3 linked regions of the Homo sapiens genome follow. The protein of the gene in region 1 purifies or fractionates together with the protein of each later gene. This does not show direct contact. Each region holds a gene or a part of one and is shown in the gene's direction. Other genes may lie near its edges.

What was found.
Region 2: the proteins of RNF135 (region 1) and EPB41L5 purify together in Homo sapiens (affinity purification with mass spectrometry; 2 studies listed by BioGRID and IntAct, with this or other methods). This does not show direct contact.
Region 3: the proteins of RNF135 (region 1) and IQCB1 purify together in Homo sapiens (affinity purification with mass spectrometry; 2 studies listed by BioGRID and IntAct, with this or other methods). This does not show direct contact.

What each region holds. Positions count from the first base shown.
Region 1 is NC_000017.11:30,997,698-31,000,546, forward strand, and holds the end of RNF135 (E3 ubiquitin-protein ligase RNF135), read left to right. Parts: intron 1-964; coding exon 965-1,494; 3' UTR 1,495-2,214; downstream 2,215-2,849.
Region 2 is NC_000002.12:120,086,050-120,089,711, forward strand, and holds part of EPB41L5 (band 4.1-like protein 5), read left to right. Parts: intron 1-1,121; coding exon 1,122-1,191; intron 1,192-3,662. UniProt on the Homo sapiens protein: Plays a role in the formation and organization of tight junctions during the establishment of polarity in epithelial cells.
Region 3 is NC_000003.12:121,796,954-121,800,615, reverse strand, and holds part of IQCB1 (IQ calmodulin-binding motif-containing protein 1), read left to right. Parts: intron 1-1,241; coding exon 1,242-1,420; intron 1,421-3,388; coding exon 3,389-3,498; intron 3,499-3,662. UniProt on the Homo sapiens protein: Involved in ciliogenesis. The function in an early step in cilia formation depends on its association with CEP290/NPHP6.

The sequences.
Region 1 (2,849 bases):
GAGCATGGATCCCAGAGCCAGACTGCTTGGGTTTGACTCCCAGCAGCTCCACTAACTAGCTGTGTGATCTTGGGCAAGTCACTTAAGCTTCCTAGAGCCTGGGTTTCCTCATCTGTAAAATGGAGATAATATAGTACTTCTCTTGCGGGATTGCCATGAGGGTTAAGTGAGTGAGTATGAGTAAAACACCTAGAGTAGTCATGCTGTATAAGTGTTAGCAATTTATTCACTCAATAGGAAACCAAATGAAATATACAAAGTGAGTAAGACATGGTCCTCAATCAGGAAGTTTCAGTTTAACTGGGAAGGTATAAACAGCTGTGGTCATAAATCACCATAAGACGGGCGTGAGCCACCGCACCTTGCCTACGCCCAGCTAATTTTGGTATGTTTAATAGAGACAGGAGTTGGCCATGATGGCCAGGCTGGTCTTGACCTCCTGGCCTCAAGTGTTCCACCTGCCTCAGCCTCCCAAAGTGCTGGGATTACAGGGGTAAGCCAGTGCACCTGGCTGAAGGAGCTGGCCTGATTTTTAAAATTGACATATAATAATTGTATAGTCTGGGTGCAGTGGCTCATGCCTGTAATTGCAGCACTTTGGGAGGCTGAGATGGCAGGATTGCTGGAGCTCAGGAGTTCGACACCAGCCTAGGAAGCATGGCAAAATCCTGCTTCTTTTCTAAATAAATTTTAAAAATAAATAAATATAATAAGTGTACATATTTATGGGATACATAGTGATGTTTCAATACATATGGTGCATAGTGATCCGATCAAGGTAGTTAGCATATCTATCATCTGAAACATTTATCATTTCTTCCTGTTGGGTGATGTAGCAATTTTAATGCTAGTGTGAGTGAAACATCACACCAAAAGATACAAAGTTGCTATTTGAAGACTTCTTAGCATGGACCATCAAAAGATGACCGGCCATGTTCTTATTGTTCTTTTTTTTTTTCCAAAGGGGCCATCCATCCAACCTTTAACTTGAAGAGCCTTTCCTGCAGCCTGGAGGTGTCCAAGGATTCCCGTACAGTGACTGTGTCTCACCGCCCACAACCCTATCGCTGGAGCTGTGAGAGGTTTTCTACCAGCCAGGTCTTATGTTCCCAGGCCCTGTCTTCTGGAAAGCATTACTGGGAAGTGGACACTAGGAATTGCAGCCACTGGGCAGTTGGGGTGGCTTCCTGGGAGATGAGCCGCGACCAGGTCCTGGGAAGGACTATGGACTCTTGTTGTGTGGAATGGAAGGGGACTAGCCAGCTCTCTGCATGGCACATGGTCAAGGAAACTGTCCTTGGCTCAGACAGACCTGGGGTGGTGGGCATCTGGCTGAACCTTGAGGAGGGAAAGCTTGCCTTCTATTCAGTGGACAATCAGGAGAAGCTTCTGTATGAGTGTACCATCTCTGCCTCCTCTCCTTTGTACCCTGCCTTCTGGCTGTATGGCTTACATCCTGGAAATTACCTGATAATAAAGCAAGTAAAGGTGTAAGGTTTCCTAAGGGATTACAACACAGTGGTTTCCTGGTCTCTCTCCCTGTCATCAATCAGGGTAGTAACTTGACTTAAGAATACCACTTTTTAGAAAAATTACGATAGAGATGGGATCTCACTAGGTTGCCCAGGCTGGTGTCGAATTCCTGGTCTCAAGCAGTCCTCCCACCTCAGCCTCCCAAGGTGCTGGGATTACAGGTGTGAGCCACCACACCTGGCCAAGAATACCACTTTTGAAGTTAATCCTTTTGTGTGATACAGGATGAACTTGGGATGTTTGAACCCTGGACATTCCAAATAAAGAATAGGCCCCTGCCTGGCTCCTGGGAGATAACCTCTAAGCCATTAGAATATCTTGCCTGATAAGAGTGTTTTTGTTTACCTGTGGGCCTTGGGCCATGCAGTATCAGCTTGACCTTGCAAGGTCAAGCTGAGGAGACTAAGTTAGCCATGTGGGCAGTGAAGCATGCCAATGTGATCAATCCCTAGTAAAAGCCCTGGACACCTAGGCATGGGTGAGCTACTCTGGTTGGTAATACTCTGTGCACACATCATTGTAGCCACACATCATTGCTGGGAGAATTAAGCATTATCCTGAAGACTCTGCCAGGAGAGGATAATTGGAAGTTCTCTTGGACCTTACCTTATGTGCCTTTCTTCATTGCTGATTTTAATCTGTATCCTTTCACTGTAATAAACTGTAACTATGAGTGCAACACTTTGCTGAGTTCTGTGAGTCCTTCTAGTGAATCACTGAACCTGAGGGCAGTCTCAGAGGATCTCTAAACATAATTTGCTACTTATCAGTTGCTATGTAAGAATATTGCCACAAATTTAATGGTTTAAAATAACACATAGATATTATTTCACAGTTTCTGTGAGTCAGGAGTCAGAGCATAGCTTAGCTGAGTCTCCTACATCAGAGTTTTACAAGCTGCAATCAACATGTCAGCTGGGGACACAGGGTCATCTGAGGCTCCAATGGGGAAGGATCTGCCTCCAAATTACATGGTCATTGGCAGCCTTCAGTTCTTGAGTTGCCGGACTGAGGGCCTCAGTTTCTTTCTGGTTGTTGGCTGGAGACCGCCCTCAGTTCCTTACCCCATAGGCCTTTGCAACACAGCTGCTTGTTTCCTCAAAGACAATAAGGGAGAGGGTCTCCTAGCCAGATGACGCAAAATCTTTTTTTTTTTTTTGAGACGGAGTCTCACTCTTGATGCCCAGGCTGGAGTGCAGTGGTGTGATCTGGGCTCACTGCATCCGCCGCCTTCCAGTTTCAAGCAATTCTCCTGCCTCAGCCTCCCGAGTAGCTGGGATTACAGATGTCTGCCACTACGCCCGGCTAATTTTTTT
Region 2 (3,662 bases), on another chromosome or scaffold:
GCCAGGCATAGCATGGTGGCACGCACCTGTAATCCCAGCTACTCTGGAGGCTGAGGCAGGAGAATTGCTTGAACCTGGGAGGTGGAGGTTGTAGTGAGCCAAGATCACGCCACTGCACTCCAGCCTTTGTGACAGAGTGAGATTCTGTTTCCTTTCTTTTTCCTGCTATTATTTCTTCATTATTGTTTTAGTAAAGCTCTTGTAAAGTTATGTTTTACATCTATTTTATATGTTATATTTAAAGATTAGTCAATCGGAGTGTCACATTGTTTCGACATTCACAATTTATGGAAATACAGAGTTCAAATGTGTGGTAGGTGGTTTGGAATTTACAAGTAGGGAGATACAGTTGGAAAGCGGGCCATAAAGCGAGGTTAAAAAAATTAAGAAGTATTTCCTCTACCCAAAATTCCTGTTGAAAACAGAGTTGAGGCTGGTTGCAGTGGCTCACGTCTGAATTCCAACACTTTGGGAGACCAGGGTATGCGGATCACTTGAGCCCAGGAATTTGAGACCAGCCTGGGCAACGTAGCGAGATGCCGTCTCTACAAAGAATACAAAAATTAGCCTGGTGTGGTGTGGGAGTAAGGCTGAGGCAGGAGGATTACTGGAGCCTGGAAGTTCACGGCTGCAGTGAGCTGTGAACACACTACTGCAGTCCACCCTGTGTAATGGAGGGAGAACCTATCTCAAACAAACAAAAAGAGTTGAAAACCATCGTCAGTGTTTTTCTTTATGGCTGTTTTTTTTAAGCTTTATGGTCGTTCCTATGTCTAGTTCCTATGCTGCTGCTCTGCTTTAACACTGGAACAATTTTCCCTAGACCTAAAGAATCTCTTACACCATAATCGAGACCTATCAAATACATAGATTTCATTTTCCTTAACATTTTTAATGTCTGATATGTGCAACCTCAATTTTGTCTGAGATTTGCTTTTGAAATATGTACTGTGTTTTTCTGTTTCCTGTCTTTTGATGGGCATTGCAAGTTACGTTTACCGTCCTGTCAATTTTTAGTTCAGGAGTTAGATGGTTAAATGTATTTGAAATAAAAACAATTTTTTTCATATTTAGAGAACATTTGTTTGTAATTTGGCTTTTATTCTCTTATTATATTATAGGCCGAAGATAACCAGATTGGATTTTAAGAAGAATAAATTAACCTTGGTGGTTGTAGAAGATGATGATCAGGTAGGAATAAAATTATATTCTATTACTTGTGTAACAGTGACTGTATTATGTGGTAACTTATTTCTCTAAAAGAGGGAATGTACCTCATTGTTTTAAAGAGCCACAGAATGCAAACAGTATAATTAATGCTTTAAATAATTTCCTTACTTGGGTCATACCATGCTAAAAATATGGTTTTCTGCCCTTAGGATGAAAAATAATATAAAAGTGTCTTCTTGTTTCCTCATTGATCGTATATCTGAGGTGTATAAAAAATTACATTTAAGTGAGCCAGCCAGTCACCCAGGCTGGAGGGCAGTGGCACTGTCATAGCTCACTGTAACCTTCACCTTCTGGGCTCAAGTGATCCTCCTGCTCACTCAGCCTCCTGAGTAGCTGGGACTGCAGGCACATGCCACCACCACGCCTGGCTGATTTTTTCATTTATTTGTAGAGATGGGATCTCAGTATGTTGCCAAGGTTGCTCTCAAACTCTTGGCCTTAAGTAATCCTCCCATCTTAGCTTCTCAGCATGTTGAGATTACAGGAGTAAACCATTGTGGCAGACCAACTTTATCTCTTTATTAACTGATCAAAAAGATCTACCTAATAATAATAAAGCCTTTTGAATTAAAGATTACCTTTGTATCAGTTACAGTGTGGTTCTTAATTGATACATGCTTGGATGCAACTCACATGCATTGTTCTTAATGCAAGAAGCCAGATTTAAAAAATTATGTATTGAATGACTCCATTTATCTGATACTTTAGAAAAGGCAAGAAGAATTTTACTTTATGCAAATTAATAAATTTTAACATATGCATACAGATACAGATAAAAGCAGTTTGAGCAAAATGTTAACAGTTGTTGAGTCTAGACACTATGTATATGGGTATTCAGTTTTTCTGTATGTTTAAACATTTTTATAACGATGAAAATTTTTTTTTTGAATCCAGTTCTTTCATTTTCCTCTGCTCAGTAATTTGACTGCTATACTTTTCCTGTTTTAAACACACAATGGGATACTATGCAGCCATAAAAAAGAATGAGATCTTTTTTGCGGGACCATGGATGGAGCTGGAGGATATTATCCTTAGCAAAGTAATGCAAGAAGAGAAAACCAAATACTACATGCTCTTACTTACAAGTGGGAGCTAAATGATAAGAACTTATGAACACAAAGAAGGCAACAGCGGACACTGGGATCTACTTGAGTGGGGAGGGTGGGAAGAGGGAGAAGAGTAGAAAAGATAACTAACTGAAAGATAACTGGACTTAATACCTGGGTGATGAAATAACATGTGCAATAAACCACCATGACACGTGTTTACCTATGTAACAAACCTTCTCTTGTACCCCAAACCCAAAATAAAAGTTAAAAAATAAAAAAGAGTGCTGCTCTGAACACTAAGGTGTATGTATATTTAGCTTTTGTAGGTACTGCCAAACCTCTTTCCAAAGTATTTAATACGAGTTTATACTCCCACCAGCAATGTTATTGGTGTTTTTTTTCTTTTTTGCTAATGTTTGGAATTCTGTCTTTTTCATTGTAGCCATTCTTGTGGAGTAGAATGTGGTTTTAGTTTGTGTTCCCCTAATGACAACTCTGGTTTAGTACTTATCTGTGTAGTTATTGGATATGTGGATATCTTCTTTATGAAATGCCTACTCAAATCTTTTGCTTATTTTTCTATTAGGTCATGTGCCTTTTAGTCATTGAAAAAATTCTTTGTATGTTCTGGATATTAATTCTCTGTCAGATATTAGTGTTGCAAGTATCGTCTACTCCTTGTTTTGCCCTTTTTCCACCACTTTTATTTTTAGATGACATATAATAATTGTACATATTTATTGCATACAGAGTGATATTTTGATACATGTATACAATGTGTAATTATCAAATCAGGGTAATTAGCGTATCCATCTTTACTGTCTTAATAGTGTCTTTAAATAACCTGAAAAGTACCAAAAATTATAAAATAGATAACCATCTTATTAATGATCTAGATTTAACATTTTTTACATTTTGCTTCAGTTCTCTTTTAGAGAAAGATAAATACAATTATGTGCATGAATAAATAATACCAACTAAAGTCTAACCCCCTGACTACCTACCCCCTTTCTTCTGGTACCTGGTCACCAATTTTGGAGGGTATTATTCTCATATATATTTTGTAACTTTTTCCAAATATTAACTCATGTTAGAATTGTTTTAAAAACTTGCATAATTATATATATTTGCAGCTTGCCTGTTTTATCTAAACGTGTACCTATGTAGATCTAACATATATATATGCTATTGTGTAATATGAATAAACAATAGCACATTCATTCATTCATCATTTATTCATTTATCCCTCTGCATAATTTTTTACATATGCCTCTATTTACTTGACCATTTCTCTTTTTTTGGACGTTTAGGGTTTGTACCAAGTTTTACTATTATAAATGAGACTGAGGAAATATACATCTTCATATATAACTTTTGATG
Region 3 (3,662 bases), on another chromosome or scaffold:
TTTAATCTGAGTTTTGAATAGTGTGATGACATTGACTGATGGGACAGGGTGAGCATCCTAGGCATAGGGAATAGCATGTAAGAGACACAGTGGCACAGAAGTAGATGTCACAAAGATTCTCACATATTTTGATTGGATAACTTTATAAAGTCTTTCAACTCAGAGATTTTTACATTTAAGGTATGTTGCTGATCTCTTTTCTCTTAACAAAATTATTTTAGTAACTACTAAAGTACAATTTTCAAAAAGCTCAAACATGAGTCTTATACAAATATAAAATTTGACTGCTCAAAATTTTATGCAACTCATTAATGAGGGAACAAATAAGATATTTATACAGGGTCAAAGGAGAATTTGAGGAAAATAGATTTATGGAGTTGGTTTGTCGAAGAAATGTAGAAGTAAATTTGCTGATAGATTTTTAAAATTTGCTAATAGGAAAATATGACTTATAAAGCAATGTAGCTTCTAGAATTACCTTTTCTACTGGACAGAAATCATTTGTATTGCTTTGAATAAGAGTCTGTTTACATTGCTCTTAGATAAGAATCTTTAGCATTGTTTTCTACCAGCCAACCTCTATTTTTACAGAATTGTAAAGTATTTTAATAGTGAGTAGAAAATTAAACAGAGGTACATACGCCTAGAAAATCACATAACTCCTTAAGGGGGTAAATAAAAGGATACTCACTAACCCTTTCCTTTTGACTATTTCTAAGTTTTAGATAATTTTTCACAACATCAGTAATACAAGATGGGTTGTTAGTATAATGAAGGAAATACCAAGGAAAGATTTTAAGTTTCTCCTATATTAAGCACATGATAGAATTCCTATGGCATTTTTGTCTTTGTACATCATTTAAAAATTAACTGTGTACCTGTCTTGATTTCACTTTTATCATTGCCTTGAAGCTTTTAAATTATTTATTGTTTAGTATTTTGCACATTTATATTTCATCCTTGATTTGATTGCAGGCTTCTCTAAGGAGAAGGCCTTTGGCTACTTTGTATTCTCTATTGTACCTAGCACACATGGCACCTTGCACACAGTAGGAATTCAATAAATATTAAGTGACTGAATATGATATCTTCTTGGAACCAACATATATTTGAAAAAGTGGTTATATTCTTGGATCAGGACACAGTCCGGCATCAAGTTACTGAATCTTATATTTTAGATTTGTTGTGATACCTGTACATCAATTAGTAATGGTACTTTTTTTTTTATTTTGTTCTATTAGTGGTGATTTACTCAGAATAGGAAGAAAAGCCCTGTATTCAATTTTAGATGAAGTTATTTTCAAGCTTTTTTCAACTCCTAGTCCAGTTATAAGAAGTACTGCTACAAAACTCCTACTGTTGATGGCTGAATCCCATCAGGAAATTTTGATTTTACTGAGACAAAGTACCTGCTACAAAGGTAGTACATTCATTCTTTCTTTTCTTGGGATTCTCAAAAAGAAAATTTTTATTGATGGTTTATGAAAAACAAAATTCTTATATTTTAAAGAGTTGATAACTGACCTATGTAGATAAAACTCACAACAGATACCAATTCAGAAAAAAAAAAGTCTTTATATAATCAAGCTATCTTCATGTCACTACAGATAGCATGTGGAAGATACTTTTCTGATCAGGTTGCCATAAATATTTACTCCCTCTCTGACAAAAAGGTTTTGTGTGTTGAATATACCATATAGTATAGTAAAATAATGACCAAAAAGATCAGTGACCTTATCAAGACCAGCTTTAGTGGAGAAAATGGAGCTGTGCTTGAGAGGCCAGTGGCCCTTATGGTATTTTGAACTATCAATAATTACTTAACACTGCCTTTCCTCAAAAACAAACAAAAAAAATTGCCTTACCTCCAAAATCAAATACATATGTGAATTAAAAGTCAGAAATTTTGAGGATAAAAGGAGTAAGCGTATATACATTCTCATATAATAGCTTTCATTTAATTGAGCATTTACTGTGTGTCAGGCACATTCCATATACTTTATATGCATTAAAATGTTTAATCTTTACAACAATCCTATGGGATAGATATTCTTATCCTTATTTTATAGATATAGAAACAGAGACATGGTAATTTGCCCAAGATCACAAAGGTAGTATATATATTGTTTAATTGCCAAGCAAAGTTATATGTTATCTTTGTTTTATTTCTTTGCTGACCAGAGCCATGTATGTATTATAATCTATTTTTCTTATTCAGCGTGGTCAGGAAATGGGATTCTAGTTCATTAAATATACTTATTAACATAGGGTTATACTGTATGGGAATTTTTAAAGGTTAGAATATAATATGATGCATTTAATACCTAAACAACTAGAAAGGTCTTTATCATTCTTGATGATTTTGAAGACATTGTAATAATGTACCTTGAATTAGTCATTACTGAGGGTATTGTAGGAATAGAGAAGGAAAGTACCAGTAATAGAGCTCTTTAGTTGATATTGTGCCAGATAGACATTTTTCAATTCTGTAATTCAATTCCTAAAGAAATGTGAATGTCCAACAGAGTCGTTATAAAGGAATTTTACCTGAATCCTTCTCCCTTTCTTTGACTTATATCTCAATAGCAGAACTTATTCAGATTCCTGAAGATATTTTACAATTATTAATACTGCTGAGAACTTGGGTGTTGAAGAGAGTATAAGGCATTAAAAGATCCATATAGTGGTTTCCCCAATTATACACTACAAGGCAATTTTACCTTATGTATTTATTTTGAATACACACATTATAATACATCATTTCAGTGTACCCTGGAAACAGTACTTACTTTGTACCTTTCACTACTACTATGTATTATTTTGGCATGAAAATGTACTATCCTAGTGTTGTAGCACTTCACCTATAATGTTTTCCCAGGAACCTATTGATTTGCCCCAAATTATATATGTTACCATATGTTTATATTTAATAATCTTTTTCAACTAATAATGACTAATAATAATCTGCATAAGTGCTTCCACAGGGCAAGCATTTACTGAATATGTGTCTGTAGTAATTTATCTTTAAAATGTCTCCATTTAAGTATTTTTGTTCAAATAAAAAAAATTTATCTCTACTTTTTGATTTACCACAGTGATTCCATCCCACTCCTTTTTTTTTTTTTTTATTAAAGAGATTGTCTAGACAGATTTTTTTTTTTTTATCAGATACCACAATTGAGCACGTAAGAATTCTCAGGAGGGAGGAATATCTTAAAGATTTCAACCTGGAATTCTCTGAGAAAAGGAAAAAGAAAAATCATATGATTAATCTTGTTTTCATTTGTTTTTAAGCCAGACTTTTTAGCTTCAAATTAATACTGATTAGATAACAAAATCATATTTTATTATTATAATAATAGTTGTACCTTTTGCTATTCCATTTCAGGACTCAGACGTCTACTAAGTAAACAGGAAACTGGGACTGAATTCAGTCAAGAACTTAGACAGCTTGTTGGCCTTTTAAGCCCAATGGTCTATCAGGAAGTAGAAGAGCAGGTATTAAGTTACAAAAAAAAAAAATTGCATGATATTTGCTGACTATATTAAACCTTAGTTTTCCTTAAATGTTCCTCACTTTCTTTCTCTTAAGATTTCAAGCAAAATACCCCCAAAACAGAAATATCTTTAAATTTTTTACTCAGGAGGTTGAGGCAGGAGGA